2 separate regions of the Homo sapiens genome follow, and region 1 is linked to region 2. Evidence: fine-mapped expression QTL. Tissue or cell type: whole blood. Region 2 holds a variant in brackets; the other region holds the start of a gene. All regions are shown on one strand. Distances are from middle to middle. Region 1 holds the start of SLC47A1 (solute carrier family 47 member 1). Region 2 overlaps SLC47A1 (solute carrier family 47 member 1).

Evidence for each region.
Region 1: SLC47A1 starts here. The variant in region 2 is fine-mapped to the expression of SLC47A1 in whole blood (TOPMed, PIP 0.99).

The regions. Positions count from the first base shown.
Region 1 is chr17:19,531,598-19,535,981 of GRCh38, reverse strand. SLC47A1 (solute carrier family 47 member 1) reads right to left here and starts at 2,128. Exons shown (of 17, transcript NM_018242.3): 1 at 1,908-2,128. The coding sequence starts at 2,042.
Region 2 is chr17:19,558,389-19,562,772 of GRCh38, reverse strand. SLC47A1 (solute carrier family 47 member 1) reads right to left here. Exons shown (of 17, transcript NM_018242.3): 11 at 2,477-2,585; 12 at 2,280-2,355. It overlaps LOC105371578 (a long non-coding RNA gene), which reads left to right. Exons shown (of 3, transcript XR_934310.4): 3 at 2,248-2,478. Among named protein-coding and RNA genes, the nearest start is that of SNORA59B, 3.0 kb to the right of the region's middle. The variant G/A (reference allele first, on the strand shown) is at 1,843.

The DNA of each region.
Region 1 (4,384 bases), 27 kb after region 2:
AAATAATAATAATAATAAAACAATAATAGCCTTAGAAAGCCCCTTCTCACAGCAGCTCTGTGAGGGAGTGTTGAACCAAGACATGATTATTATCTCCATTTTACAAATGAATATGCAGAGACCAGAAGAGGTTAGGAGGCTGTTTCAATCTGCACAGCTGCTTCCTGACTTACTTTCGGAGGTCAAAGCAGGGCACGCAGCCCCAGGTCTTGAGATTCCAAATCATGAGGTGTTTTTTTGCCCAGGCTGGAGTGCAATGGCGCGATCTGGGCTCACTGCAACCTCCGCCTCCCGGGTTCAAGCGGTTCTCCTGCCTCAGCCTCCCAAGTAGCTGGAATTACAGGCGCCTGCCACCATGCCCAGCTAATTTTTATTTTTTATTTTTTGTATTTTTAGTATAGACGGGGTTTCACCAGGTTGGCCAGGATGGTCTCAATCTCTTGACCTCGTGATCCGCCTGCCTTGGCCTCCCAAAGTGCTGGGATTACAGACGTGAGCCACCACGCCCAGCCATGAGGTGTTTTTGTTTTGTTTTGTTTTGTTTTTTGAGACCAAGTCTTACTCTGTTGTTCAGGCTGGAGTGCAGTGGCACCATCCTGGCTCACTGTAACCTCCACTTCCCAGGTTCAAGCGATTCTCGTGCCTCAGCCTCTGGAGTAGCTGGCACTACAGGCGCCCGCCACCACGTCTGGCTAATTTTTGTATTTTTAGTAGAGACGGAGTTTCACCATATTGGCCAGGCTGGTCTCGAACTCCTGACCTCAAGTGATCCATCTGCCTCAGCCTCCCAAAGTGCTGGGATTACAGGCGTGAACCACCGCGCCCAGCCCCAAATCATGAGTTCTTTCTGGTCTGTGAGAAAGCATGGCTGATGGATCTTATTCCATGGCTTTGACCTCGGCATTACCCTTGCTGTCCTGCACACCACAGCGGGTGCCACAATATCCCACAAACTACCGAGCCCCCACTCCAGAGGCACAGCGGCCCCCCTCAGCCCGCGCAGGTGCAGAATGTGGGCCTCAAAGTCAAAAGCTTATTCACGCCTTAAGTGCATACCAGTTGCTTCTTGTGCCGCGTCCTACCCTCTCGGTTTGAAAACCACCCAAGCTGGCAGGAGAACGTGGATAGGATTGTGTTTTTGTGGTTTTTAAAACCACATTATTTTTAGGAGACAAGGCAGAAACAGCCCTAACCTAATGATTAAAAAGAAAAGAATCCCACAGATAAGAACACCTCGACCCCACAAAGAACCACATTAAAACCCCTTTTTTCTTTCACATACATAATTACTGGCGGGGAGGGGGTGGTACAGGATGCCTCTGGTTTCCTCGGTAGAGGTTGACTGAATTCTGAAGAAATCATTTCGCAGCTCTGAGTCCACGACAGACCACGCACCCCCTCCTCCGTGCCTCGGGATTATTTAGATCGCAGAGCTCCCGAACTTTTGACCGCTACTTTTCAAAGAAACAAGTTCCCTTGTGTTTTGAAGTTCAGGCAACTTGCGTTTTATTGGCCGGAATCAGCTCCCAGAGAAGGCACCCCCGGATGCAAATGCAGCCTGGACCTGGTAGAGCCCCGTTAGGGGCAAAGGTCCCAGCTCTCCGGTGTCTCCTGGCGCAGGAGGCTGGAGCCGCCGGCCTCTCCGAGCCAACATGCGCCCGGGCGCGTACCAGCCGTTCCCGCAGTGCCCCGCGGGGCCCCCAGTCGGGTGGTGCGGAGCGGAAAGCGGCCGGGACGCAGGCAGAGGAGCTGGGGTGCCCGCCCGGCTCCTGGCACGATGCTCCCCGGAGCCCGCCGGCGGACAGCTCGCTCGGTCCCCAAAGCCCGCCAAAGTCACCCGCGGAGGCAGAAATCACCAGGTCCCCAGCCCGCCGGTACCGGCCTGCCACTGAGGCCACCTTACTCACCGCGGGGCCAGCCAGGACCAAGAGCGCCCGCAGCTCTTCTCGGAAGGCGGACAGCCGCAAGCAGCGCGACCCACGGACCTCAAGGGTGGCCTCCGGGCCTCCGCGCACTGGCGCGGGCTCCTCAGGAGCTTCCATGTGACTCGCGCGCTGCGGCCGGGTAGCGCGGAGGCCGGCAGTGGGTACCGCGGAGGCCGGCAGTGAGTACCGCGCAGGCCGGCAGTGGGTACCGCGCAGTGCAGCCTGCTCTGCAGTCCCCGCCCCGGCCGCCCGCCCAGAGCCCGCCCCGCGCCTGGCGCCCGGGGGCCCGACTGAGCGCGCAGCCAGGCAGCCTGCGACCTTGGGCGCGCCCCTTGCACCTCTCTCTGCACCACTGCGGACGCCTGCGGGTCTTGCAAAGACCAAGGAACTCCTGCACTTGGAAGGCAAAGTTTGAAAAAGCTCTGTAAACTAACGGAACGCGCTCCGGGGGCTGGGTCCTCCACGTCTCGGACGCCAGGACTCACCCCGGCTCTCCACCTCCGCTGGGGGTTTCAGGTTCTGAATGACCTGGCGTGGAAGGACCCAGAGGCCTCGAGCCGTGACTCGGTTAGCACCCCGCGGGGTGTGTGGGGTTGGGCGCATTTGCTGTGCAGATTGAGTTGGGTACACCCTTTGATGCTGGTTAGGGTGTTGCATACTCCTCTCCTCTCATCAGTTGTTCCATTAGAGAACTTAGAATCTACCAGGATAGAGCAACATGCTCCCATTTGCCAAGTAGCACAGTTTGTGCCAGCTGGTCGTGTTGGAAGTTTATCCATCAAGCCTGCTGTGGGAGTACGAGAGGCTGCGGCCCAGAAGGGCAGGAGCAGCGCGCTTTCCTCCCAGAGCCTCAGCTTCCTCATCTGCAAACGTGAAAGAACACTCGTCGCCAGCTGTGAAGACTGGGGTTGCCTGGGCGGAGGACCGGAGTCAGTGCCACCTGCCCTCAGCCTGGCACCAGCCGTTACCTAATAAGTGTCAGTTACCAGGACAAGATTGATTTCTCTAATAGTCAAAATTCCTTCCGTTGTAATGATCCAATGTAAGTAGAGAAAATGGAAAACAAATTTTTTGGCTCACATAATCAGGAAGTTTGGATTCAGGGATTTGAAAACAAGGTCATTAGGCCAGGCGCGGTGGCTCACGCCTGTAATCCCAGCACTTTGGGAGGCCTAGGCGGGCGGATCACAAGGTCAAGAGATCGAGACCATCCTGGCCAACATGGTGAAACACCGTCTGTACCGAAAATTAGCTGTGCATGGTGGCGCGCGCCATAATCCCAGCTACTAGGGAGGCTGAGGCAGGAGAATTGCTTGAACCCGGGAGGCAGAGGTTGCAGTGAGCCGAGATCTCGCCACTGCACTCCAGCCTGGTGGCAGAGGGAGACTCCACTCAAAAAAAAAAAAAAAACAAAACCAGATCATTCTTGTTGTCCCTCTTCCCATCTCTGTCCCTCTCCTCCCTTCTCCTCGCCCCTTGGGATTCTTTCCGTAGTTTCTCTTCCTCCTCTGCCGGCAGCCTTTCTCTTCCTGTGCAAGTGACAGTGGTGGCCTCTGATACCCTCGTTCCTATCTTTCCCGTCTGTTAAACCAGAAAGTAAGGCCCTCCCCTCCTCTCTTCTGGTTCCAAACTAACAAACAAAAAACTGGGAGAAAATCTGGTTGGCCCTGCTTAGGTTTCTTGCCCACCTCTGGAACAATCGCCCTGGGTGGGAAAATAGGGTCTGATGTTTGGCTGGCCCTGGACCATGCACCCAGCTTTGAACCTACAGGGTTAGGGTTAGGTGCCCTGTGACTGGTCTCGTCCCACAAGGACTGTACATATGGAGTAGCGCAGTTTCCCAAAAGAACTGAGAGTGTCAACAGACAAATACCCGAGGATATTCACTAGATCTCTGATCACTGCTGTTTTTTGATAATTTTCTGGAAGTCCTGACTGATGTAATAAGACAGGAAATGGAAATGTAATGTATAATGTTAGGAAAGAAAAGGCAAAGGGATTACTCACAGTAGAAATTGACAGACCGGGCCAGGCACAGTGGCTCATGCCTATAATCCCAACACTTTGGAAGGCCGAGGTGGGAGGATCACTGGAACCCAGGAGTTTTGAGACCAGCCTGGGCAACACAGTGAGACCCCATCTCTTAAAAAAAATCCACACAACCCAAAGAAATAAAATATGAACAAAAGCTAATAGAATTGATAAAGGGGTTTAATAAAGTTGCTACATAGAAGTTCTTCAACAAGTCATATCAGTCCTTTATATTGGTAATAACATATATGAAAATACTAAAAGAAATCTTTCACAATAGCAACAAAAAACAAAAGGTCCTCGTGATACAGAGCATAACTCCTCACTCCTTAAAGGTGGATTGTACACAGTGACTTCCTTCCAAAAAGTAGCACAGGAAAATTAATTTTCAATTAATATATTAGGTTTTAGTCCACTACTGTGTATTC
Region 2 (4,384 bases):
CTTGTTTTTCATTCTTTTCCTGGGCTGTATGGTTTCCCAAGTGGACAGATTCAGAGTCCAGCTTCTACTATATTCCTTCTGAAACCATCCATTTATCCTGGTCCTCATAAAGTTCATCCTGATTCCCTTTGTGAGAAAAGCCAACTATTTGCCATCGCCTTCCCCACTCATTCTGAGTGAGGGAGTTATAAACTTTTTTTTTTTTTTTGAGACAGAGTCTCACTCTGTTGCCCAGGCTGGAGTGCAGTGGCACAATCTCAGCTCACTGCACCCTCCGTCTCCCAGGTTCAAGTGATTCTCCTGCCTCAGCCTCCTGAGTAGCTGGGATTGCAGGCGTGCCTCACCACGCCTAGCTAATTTTTTTTGTATTTTTAGTAGAGACAGGGTTTCCCCATGTCGACCAGCTGGTCTTGAACTCCTAAACTCAGGCAATCCATCTGCCTCAGCCTCCCAAAGTGTTGGGATTACAGGAGTGAGCCACCGTGCCTGGCCTAAACATCTTATTTCCCCATAACAAAATAGCTGAAGCTGAAAAATGAAAACCTACGATCTGAAGTCAAAAGTCAAATGTGTGAAGAATAAACCATGAAATTAGTTCTGTCCGCTCCACCAGCTTTCTGAATCCAGGAAGGCAAAGTCCATTTGCATTTTGTAACTGCTGACAAAGGTGTCCAAATAAGAAGTACCCCCACGAAGTTTCTATATAGTCCGAATGTACACACTAGCATCGCTGATGAAGGAAACAAATTCTGCAGAGCAGAGGGGACTTATCCAAGAATTCTTCAGTAATCAATCTGAGAATATGACTTTTGAGACAGCTCACTGGTGAGATTTTAACTTCAATTCAGTTTGACAAACATATTATGCAACTACTACAAACCGGGCACTTTGGCCGATACTAAGAAACCAAGAGGATTCTTATCACTGGAAACAAAATAATTAACTGAAAATGTAATTAATCGTACTAAAAAGGGGTTTCCACCTTTAAAATACATGACCAGCAGAAGCATAAAATCATTACCAATGCCCATTAAGTTGGCACTGTAGATTATACATCAGTTCCTACATCTAATATGTTCTTCCCAAGTAACATCAGTGGAGCCTCTGATCTTTTTTTTTTTTTTTTTTTTGAGACAGAGTCTTGCCCTGTCGCCCAGGCTGGAGTGCAGTGGCGGGATCTCAGCTCACTGCAAGCTCCACCTCCCGGGTTCACGCCATTCTCCTACCTCAGCCTCCCAAGTAGCTGGGACTACAGGCGCCCGCCACCACGCCCAGCTAATTTTTTCTATTTTTAGTAGAGACGGGGTTTCACCGTGTTAGCCAGGATGGTCTTGATCTCCTGACCTTGTGATCCACCCGCCTCAACCTCCCAAAGTGCTGGGATTACAGGTGTGAGCCACCGCGCCCGGCCGAGCCTCTGATCTTGCAAATGAGTCAGACATCCCTGCTGCAACAACCATAGGTGGCCTCTATGATAGCATCTATCCAATTTAACCATTTCTTTTTTAAATTTTGAGATGGAGTCTCATTCTTGTCACCCAGGCTGGAGTGCAGTGGCACGATCTTGGCTCACTGGCACCTCTGCCTCCTGGGTTCAAGTGATTCTCCCACCTCAGCCTCCTGAGTAGCTGGGATTACAGGCGTGTGCCACCATGACCAGCTAATTTTTGTATTTTTAGTGGAGATGGGGGTTTCACCATGTTGGCCAGGCTGGTCTCGAACTCCTGACCTCAGGTGATCTGCCAGCCTTGACATACCAAAGTGCTAGGATTACCAGCGTGAGCCACTGTGCCCGGCCTCTTTTTAAAAAAAATTCCTAGTTTTAAAAAACTTTTTCTGCTG[G/A]CATCTTGCTCTTGGAGGAACCATTTCTTTCTTTCTTTTTTTTTTTTTTTTTAAGACGGAGTCTTGCTCTGTTGCCCAGGCTGGAGTGCAGTGGCACAATCTCGGCTCACTGCAACCTCTGCCTCCTGGGCTCAAGAGATTCTCCAGCTTCAGCCTCCCAAGTAGCTGGGATTACAGGTGTCTGCCACCACACCCAGCTAATTTTTGTATTTTTAGTAGAGATAGGGTTTCACCATGTTGGTCAGGCTGGCCTTGAACTCCTGACCTCAGGTGATCCCAAAGTGCTGGGATTACAGGTGTGAGTGAGATGTTTTCTTTTTACTGATATGATTTCAAACAGCAATGTTTCTGAACAGCCTGATTTTAGAGAACAAATTTTCTCAATGAACCATTTCTTTATCACAGATTTCACATTTCAAGAAAATCCTAGCACTCACCGGTCGGTAGTAAAAATGTACCCCACGTGATCCTTACAGCTTAACAGCAGGACACTGAAGGCTACAGCAAAGAGCACTGAAGGTAAAAACGGCAGAAGAAACAACACAGTGAACAAGAAGATCCACAGGAAGTGGAGGAGCCTGGGTTTTGCATGCAGAGACTGCACCAAGAGCCTCGGGTAAAGGGGTCTCAGCACCTGTAATCAGCAGGGAAACGGTAGAGGACTTCCGTGCCTGCTCCATGTCTCCAGCACCCAGAGCGTTTCCTACCCGGACACTGGCAGCCACACTGAAGCCTGCAGGGACCTAAAATAAAAAGGAAACCTGCAACAATGAGTGAGAAACTGCAGAGCGAGAACACGTGCAGAGAAGCAGCCTCATGCCTCACACCTGGTGGGAAAACTTGGTCCTAAAAGTTTTGAAAAGACTGATTTGCAACATCCCCTTTGTCTAGCCGGGAACTCCCACGCTACTGTGGAAACTGAGCCCCAGGTTACGATGCTTAGCACAAACTGGGCTTTGCTGCAGAGCTTCCAACCTCTGCGACATGAGGGTGCTGCACAACCATGTTCCTCCTCTGGGTGTCGGGGGATGGACTGACTCACCAGGAGCCCAGGTTTTGTCTGTTTTTTTTTTGTTTTTGTTTTTAAATAGGGACAGAGGTCAGGCGTGGTGGCTCATGCCTGTAATCCCAGCACTTTGGGAGGCCGAGGCAGGTGGATCACTTGCGGTCAGGAGTTTGAGACCAGCCTGGCCAACATGGTGAAACCCCATCTCTATTAAAAAATACAAAACTTAGCTGGGCGTGGTGGTGCACGCCTGTAATCCCAGCTACTCAGCAGGCTGAGGCAGGAGAATCGCTTGAACCTGGGAGGCGGAGGTTGCAGTGAGCTGCGATAGTGCCACTACATTCCAGCCTGTGCGACAGAGTGAAACTCCTTCTCAAAATAAATAAATAAAATAAAATAAATAGGGACAGGGTCTCACTCTGTCCCTCAGGCTGGAGTGCAGTGGCACAATCATAGTTCACTACAGCCTCGACCTCCTGGGCTCAAACGATCCTGCAACCTCAGCCTCTCAAGTAGCTGGGATCACAGGCATGCGCCTCCACACATGGCATAGTGTCTGTTCTGAAAGACCATCAAGGGATCCAGCTTAGAAGACAGGAGTGGCACTAAAGGAACTGCAGGGAAACAACCCTGTATTGTGGTTAGGGATCAGGATTCTGAAGCCAGATTGCTTGGGCTCAAATCCCAGCACAGCCACTTTATCAGCTGCATCACCCTGAGCAAGTTACTTACCCTCTCAAAACCTCCAGAGTTTTATCTGTAAAAGGAGTTGAATCATAGAACCTATCTCATTGGGCTATTGTGGGAACTTAATGAGTCCATACATGCTAACTGCTTAGAAGAAGCATGTAGGAATTGCTCAATAAAGATTTACCATTACTATTATTTATAAAGTTACCACTTGAAAAATTAATATTAATAAGGAAAAAGGAGTCATCACTTGTTGAAACATGAACATTGCCTTAGGATCAGGATGACTATGGACCAGCTTAAAGAAAATCTGATACACAGATTGAGAAATAAAAAAGTAATAGAAGACTGAGTCTCTGCCTATAAATTCACAAGTAGGGACAAACAGAGATCGCCTGACAAATTATTTATTCATTACAAAGGGAAAGGTAGTAACTTGACAGGAGAAACCTGGCAGGTACCACCTTAACCAAGCAATCAAAGTTAATACTGGCAGGGTGCAATGGCTGTGCCTGTAATCCCAGCACTTTGGAAGGCCAAGGTGGAATGATTGCTTGAGCCCAGGAGTTTGAGACCAGCCTGGGCAACATAACAAGACCAAATTTTTTTTAAAAATTAGCTGGGAGTGGTGGTGCATGCCTGTAGTCCCAGCTACTCAGGAGGCTGAGGTGGGAGGATTGCTTGAGTCCAGGAGGTCAAGACTGTAGTAAGCCAAGATCAGGCCGCTGTCACCAGAACAAGACACTGTCTTAAAAAAAAAAAAATAAGTAAAATAAAAACAACCACCAACAAGTAAAAAGTAGTATCACCAACACTGAGACAGATCAACATCATGTGCCTCCTGAT